Linked DNA regions of Homo sapiens. The protein of the gene in region 1 interacts with the protein of each later gene in a pairwise test. Each region holds a gene or a part of one and is shown on either strand. Other genes may lie near its edges.

The links.
Region 2: the proteins of PPARD (region 1) and ITGB5 interact in a two-hybrid assay, tested with the Homo sapiens proteins (one study listed by BioGRID).

The regions. Positions count from the first base shown.
Region 1 is NC_000006.12:35,411,745-35,415,557, reverse strand, and holds part of PPARD (peroxisome proliferator-activated receptor delta), read right to left. Parts: intron 1-3,813. UniProt on the Homo sapiens protein: Ligand-activated transcription factor key mediator of energy metabolism in adipose tissues. Receptor that binds peroxisome proliferators such as hypolipidemic drugs and fatty acids.
Region 2 is NC_000003.12:124,842,197-124,846,009, forward strand, and holds part of ITGB5 (integrin beta-5 isoform a precursor), read right to left. Parts: intron 1-3,813.

The DNA.
Region 1 (3,813 bases):
GTAAACACTAGCCCTCTCACCCAGAGAGTAAAGTATCAGTTTCACCATCTTTGATGACAAGTTCAGCAAATAGACACTATTGACCTTATTCACATCATTTGTGGCTGAGAGCTCTCCTGCATATCTAGCCTCCAATGCTGGGAGAATGCCGTTGTCATGGCTGTGAAGACAGCCAGGAGGCGCCCGATTGGTCTATTTACTTTGCTGGCAGAGCTCACAGGCAAACAAGCACCCAGCAGCTTCTGAAGTCAGGCCAAATTCTGCAGGGATTTGAGGCTGGGTTACTGAGCAGCCTCTTTACTTCTGCTGTCCTGTTTGCCTGAACTGTGGGCTCCTTGGGACAGGCACTCAGCCTTGTCCACCACTGTATGGCCAGCCCTGGGCACAGTGCTGGGCCCAGCCTGATGCCCACCAAGTGCTTGCCAAGTGAGGAGGTGCTGAGGCCAGGAGGAAGGACACTTTATCTTCCTCTTTCTCAAGGGTGATTGGGATGGATGTCACTGAAGCAGGAGGGATGAGAATGGGAATGGGAGGTGAATCCTGGCTCTAGCTGTCTCTACTCCTACACGCCCAGGGGACCCTGGCAAGTGGGTTTCTGGTAACCTCAGTTTCCTTGTTGATGGGAAGGTCTGTCCTGCCTGGCTGGGGGGAGGGTGAGAAGGTGCATGGCAGGTGTTGAGCTCAATATCTGCACTGAGAGTCAGTGCTGAACTGCTGAGGAGGGTGGTCAGGGGTGACTGTGGAGCCTTCCTGCTGTTTCAGGGCTCAAAGCTGTGCGCTGTCCTTATGGGTCCCTCAGGGGACTCCCGAGGCCAAAGTAATAACTCATGGGGATGGGGCAGAGAACTAGCAGGTGCTGAGACCTGCGATGTGTCACATACCCCCACTGACTCTCACCTGGCTGGCCCTCAGGCTGGGTAGGACACAGCCTATAAAGGTGAAGAGAATGAGACTTGGAGAAGTGATGGCACTGGCGAGGGCTACAGCTCACAGTGACAGACCTGGGATGCCTGCCCTGGTCTCTGTGATCTCCAAGCCCTTCTGCTCTGGACACATGATCAGGCTCTGTCTCCAGGGCCCCTCACCTGCCAGATCCTCACCCCCCTTTTAAACAGTTAATTTTACCCTTAAAAAAAGTACAGTTGCCTTTCAAATTATGGAAGTAGTGCAGACTTGTTGAGAAAAACACAGAAGGGTATGCAGGATCTTATGACACAGCCTCCTTAACCATGATCCTGCTCCTCAGAGTTAGCCCCTGAGTCCTTCGGTATAGACTCTTCCGGTGCCTTCTATGAAACATAAGGATTTTAAACAATGGGATCCCCAACTTGTCAGGAACTTATTTAATATATATATAAACCAGCCTTATCCTTTTCAATGACTCCAGAGTATTCCACCATATGGCTCTACCACAGTTTACATAACCAGTTCCCCACAGATGGGCACGTTCCTATTTTTGCTCTTATGAGCAGTCCTGCAGTAAATAAGCTGGCATGGGAATCTCTGAGCATGCTGAGCAAGTACTTACACAGGACACGTTCCTAGAAGTGGGAATGCAGGGTAAAAGAAATGCACACTTGGCCAGGTGTGGTGGCTCACACCTGAAATCCCAACACTTTGGGAGGCCGAGGCGGGAGGATCACCTGAGGAGTTCGTGACTAGCCTGGCCAACACAGTGGAACCCCATCTCTACTAAAAATACAAAAATTAGCCAGGCACGGTGGTGCACGCCTGTAATTCCAGCTACTTGGGAGGCTGAGGCAGGAGAATCGCTTGAGCCCGGGAGGCAGAGGTTTCAGTGAGTTGAGATCGTGTGCCACTGCACTCCAGCCTGAGCGACAGAGCCAGGCTCTGTCTCAAAAAAAAAAAAAAAGAATCACACATTAAGAAGTGTTGGCCCACACTACCCTTTCACCCCTGGTGGTGGGAGGACCAAGTCCTCCCCACCCATCTGACAGGTGAAATGGCATTGCAACTTAAGGTGCTTTCTTTGAGTTGGTTAGACTGAAAAACCTGTCGGGATTTCAGGCCATTCGTATTTGTCTTACTGTTACCTGTTCTGATTTTCCTGCTAGGTTGCTTGTCTTGTAGAATTTTTGGGAACTTTTCATACACTACAGCTTTAACACAAAGTGATTATGTCAAGTAACCCTCTCTCCTGTTTCAATGACTGAACAAGGAAGTCTATCTCCACTTCATCCACTTATTGATAAACAGAATCTATTAAACACCACCGCCTACATAGTACCATGTGACTGGTGAGGCAACCTCTGCCCTGGACGTTTCCCGCTGTGCCCTAAATCCCACAACGAAGCTGCCTGAGAGGTCACCGCCATGCCTGCCTCACCCTACCCCTGCTCCCAGGCACCTCACCTGGCCTGCACGGGAACAGTGATGCTATTTGGGAAACAGCCCTGGTCCCAAGAAGGGGTGTGGAGGAAACTCCAGGACAGAACACTGCTCTGCAGGGGACTTCCATCTGCCTGGGCTCAGATGTGGGGATGAGGTGGGCCACGGCAGGCGGCATAGCCACAAACCCTGTGGCCGTCTCTTCTCCTTGCATTCTCCCCTGAATCCTCATGACATCCCACACTCATTCTTAGTCCCCACTGTCTTCCCTTTGCTTTCTAACCCTCCCTACCTTCTTCAGATTTAGAACAGTATGTGCTACTGGCACTGAGTGAATTATCACTCCTGGTTAGCTGTTCCTCTCTTCTGAGACAGGCTGTGTCTCCAAAGCCATCCCAGTTACCAGCCAATAGACAGGAAGTTGCTTACTCGGGGAATGGCGGACACCTTCACTTTGGCCCTAGAATCACATTTGGCCTACTTTGGTCACTCCCAGGTGATCCTGGGTGAGATGAGAAGGACTGAATGATGGCTCTATACTCCCTCCACCCAACTCTATACACTGAAGAGGAAGAACTTCTGCAAAATTCTGGGACTTGCTTTGCAGGTTCAAGGTGGTGTGGCTCCAGGATTCAGACCCATCTTAGCTGCAGACCCAAACAGGAGCCTGCGCTACCTCCACAGCCTTCACCCTGCCTTAGCTTGGACACTAACTGCCTCCTCCTGCTCCATGCAGTCACAGGGGTCCAGAGCCCATTTCTGCGGGGTGGGCTTGCTCCTCTGCCTGAGTCACCGCCTGTGGCTAGGATCTCCTGCAGCTGAAAGCAGCAGCGAGTGCAGGGTGTCTACTCCCAGCAGTATATCCTTATGACCCTGAGTTCCCTCTAAGGGGAGGAGCGAGGATGAGCTGCATGTGCAGGCCTGCAGCACTTGGGTAAGGAGAGAAGTGGTGGGAGAAAGCAAGAAGCAGAGGGATCAGGCCAGGCGCGGTGGCTCCTGCTTGTAATCCCAGCACTTTGGGAGGCTGAGGTGGGTGGATTGCTTGAGCCCAGCGGTTCGAGACCAGCCTGGCCAACATGGTGAAACCCCATCTTTACTAAAAAAATACAAAAATTAGCCGGGCGTGGTGGTGCACGCCTATAATCCCAGCTACTCGGGAGGCTGAGGCAGGAGAATCACTTGAACCCAGGAGGCAGAGGTTGCAGTGAGCTGAGACTGTGCCACTGCACTCTAGTCTGGGCAACAGAAGGAGACTTTGTCTCAAAAACCACAAAAACAAAAAAGCAGGGGGAACTGCAGCAGGGAAAGCCAGGGGCTGCATGGATTCTGGGTGCTTTTGAAGGTAAACATAACATGATGATGATGAAGATGACAGAACAGTACAGGGTACTAGAGAAAACTGTCTGCACTGCTGATAAATAAAGGGGAACCAATAAGTGAGACAGGAGAAGCTACAACTGCTTG
Region 2 (3,813 bases), on another chromosome or scaffold:
GAAACTAAGCATCTTCAAATGGAAAGTTATGTCTGGAAATTACAAAAGAAGGAAGTATTACACATCAATAATAGGTTAATACCAAGCCTTTCTCCTGAAATATGGGGTGATCTCCTTTTCAGTCTCCTGTGGAGACTCCAAGTGGCCCTATTCCTGAAGGGAGTTACTTTCCATTACAGCTCTAAGAGTTTCAGCTTGATCTAGAACTAATAAAGTTGGAAGAGAGAGCTTATATTGTTTTACCAATGGGTTCACAAAGTAAAGGGAAGAGGGGAGAGTGTCCCAGCCAGAGAAGAGCATGTGCAAGAGTCCTGTGGCAGAAGGGAGCACAGAGCCCAAGGACAGAGGGAGGTCGGGGGGCTGTGGTGCAGAGTAACGGGTGAGGATGGGCGAGGAGGAGCCTGGGAGGCAGGCTGGGCCAGACTGTGCAGGGTCTCCAGCCATGTTAAGGAAGTCGCTCTTTCAGGATAAATGATGGAAAACGAGCACTAACAGGCCTGAGGGAAAGGCTTTATAATCTAATTCAAGCTGCATACATGGGAAAGAAAACAGCCTTAGCAACAGCTAGGAGGACCCTGCCTTAAATGCTGTCAAAAAGCAGACTCACCAGGGCAGGTCTGGGCAGGCTCCCTTCTGTAAAGGGGCAATCTTTGGTTCTCTAAGGGGCTATTCCATTCCCTCTCAGGGCTACAGTCCCTTCTCCATCCACACAGTCACAACAGCACAGCACAGAGTCCCCAGCAACAGGCCCACCCTGCACAGAATCAATCAGCCCCACTCCTGTGATAGTCGCGCTCTCCCTCTCGGGGCCGGCGGCAGCGATGGGATCTCCCTGCCTGGCTTTCCTTTGTGTTTCTCCCTTCTCCTTTCCCGAAGTCTTCATGAACACCTTGTACTTGGACAGGTGGAACTCTCTTTTAACCTCAGCCTCGGGCCACCCAAACTTTCCATTACCTCCTCATTTTGTCATGAAAAGAACAATCATGGAAATTACATTCCCAGCTGGAAGAAGGAACTGAGGTCCCATCTGTAGCTATTTGGCAAGTGGATCATAGGCCCAGAAGGAAGTAAGTCTATCCAAACTCTCCCCCTCTCTCTTCCTCCAAGATCCTGCCCTGGCCTATGTGGCTCTGGCCCATGATTTAGGACTTCAGGTGTGTGGTTTTTTTACACTTGGTCCGGTTGGTTGCGGACAGGGAGAAAAGAAACTGAATAATGATTGCTGTTTAACCAGGAAAGCTGTGACAAACTCAGCTACAGCTCAGCATGTTTTACCTCCTCCCTTTCACTCCCGCAAACAGCAATGAGCAGATACATTTTTACTGCAAAGAATGACTGTTAAGTAGTTAGGAATTAGAAGATGTGTTTGCCAGAGAGAAGCCTTCATTGTAGAGAATTTACTATAACCAAGTCAGAGTCACTTAGGAAAAGAGCTTTGTCACACAGACGCTAGGAGAGTCTCCACTGACACTGGAATAGGATGTCACCTGTGATGAGTTATCTGACTTAACCCCAGAGCAGCTGTCTGAGTGGCCTGAAGATCCGGACGTTCTGGGGTCATGCCAGGAGACTATCCTACCCCTCTCATGTGTCTGTGCTGTGAGACCCCAAATAAGCGCCATGCATACAGAGTTACTAAATTAAGGATTATTAACAAGGGAGATAAAAAATAAAATATATATGGTTAAAGAGCCAAGGGAGTGTCTGTATGTATAAAAAGTGAATCCAATTTGAAGACACCAGACCTAGGCAAATCCAGAAAACAATCTAATGCCTCAGGAGAATATCATGGATCAAGCTGACATGGAAAGGCTCTCCATGTCATGGAACAGGAATGAAAACATCTTATCTGCTTCTTCTAACTCTAAACATATACAACTGCTGGATAAAATGTAATTTAAAATTTTTTAATATATAGCCTAGGCTGGAAGCTTAGAAAGTAAATCCCAGAAACGAAGAGGAAACCATTCAATAAATGAATGGACCTTTCAGAAGTATTTGGTTTTGGCAAAAAAAAAAAAAAAAAAAAAAAAAAAGAAAACACCAAAAAACAAATGAATGGACTTAAAAGAATAGGTGGGGGCTGGGTGCAGTGGCTCACGCCTGTAATCTCAGCACTTTAGGAGGCTGAGGCAGGCAGATCACCTGAGGTCAGGAGTTCAAGACCAGCCTGGCCAACGTGGTGAAACGCCATCTCTACTAAAAATACAAAAATTAGCTGGGCATGGTGGTGGGCACCTGTAATCCCAGCTACTCAGGAGGCTGAGTCAGGATAATCACTTGAACCCAGGAGGTGGAGGTTGCAGTGAGCTGAGATCCCGCCACTGCACTCCAGCCTGAGTAACAGAGCAAGACTCGGTCTCAAAAAAAAAAGGTAGGAAATGGGCAGGCACTCATGCCAAGGACCCCCGCAATGGGTCAGGCCTTGACTGAGGCCCTACAGGCTTGGAGCAGGGTCTACCAGGAATAGATGCTGAGCCTCAGTCCTGCAGAGGGCTGAACACTGGAATAGGGCTGTCTGCATAAAGCCGAACAGCACAATGAGCTGCTGTGCTACTAAAACCAGAAACAGAAAAACTCCAGCTACTGGTCTAGGAAAGCAGCACGGAAGCTGACCATCTACCATGAATGAGATGAATTACCCATAAAAACTGTAACTCCAGGCCTGAGCAATTGGAATACACTGCTTTTATGGTGAAGACATCTCCATTTGAAAAATTAACAGAAAAACTAGTCCCACGGTGAACCTGGAGATTCTCGACAACGGCAAACATAAAACTGCTCTGCAGGGATGCCCCCACAACCTCCAAGGAAGAGCTAATGAAAAGCTTATAAATTGCATGAAAAACAATTCATGAAGGCATGTCAGCAGGTCCAATACACTGACTGGCTGTGGATCCACCTGAAGGATCCACAATTCAAGAAACAGAAACAGAATAATTTAAAATACTTTAGGCTGGGCGTGGTGGCCCACCCCTGTAATCTCAGCACTTTGGGAAGCTGAGGTGGGTGGATCACCTGAGGTCAGGAGCTCAAGACCAGCCTGGCCAACATGGTGAAACCCCATCTCTACTAAAAAATACAAAAATTAGCTGGGTGTGGTGGCACGTGCCTGTAATACCAGCTACTCAGGAGGCTGAGGCAGGAGAATCACTTGAACCCAGGAGACACAGGATGCCGTGCTGCCTGGACGTGGGGAGACAAAGCTCGGCCTGCTCACCAAGCCACAGTGTGCCCCCACGCTGCGTGTGCCTCCCCAGCTCAGAGAAGAGAGCTTCACATAACTCAGGCCCGAGGTTTCCTTCCACATTCTCATTCTTCACTGGACTTCCTGCCTTACAAGTAGCTTTTCAGTGTGCCTTGTACTCACTGTCAGGAGTTTTACTGTCTGCAACAGGCTCTGCCTTAGAGGACTTAGAGAGTGAGCTCTGAATAAGTAATGATGTGTCATAACTTTGAATATTTAAATGCTGAGCGCCTAGAGCCAGCCCTTGATTCTCTGCCAGCTTCCAATCTAGTGTCTCGGTCAGTGGAAGGGCCTTGGAAGAATGAAAGTGGGGACACACCCTATCTGTCTGGAGACAGGGCCCAATTAGGACAGAGGTGAAAAGAAGCAAATAAAATCACTATTTCAGATGAATTGAAAAAAGGCTTAAGGCTTGCAGTTAAGATGCTGTTGCTCCTGGTAAGCAGCAAAATTTCAACAAAAACATTTGACACCCAGACTTAGCTGAAAAGGGCCTTGGAGACAGAATCAAAGTAGTAATAGTCCCTGTGGCCACCTGTCGCCAGGAGGAAGCTAAACCCAGCAAA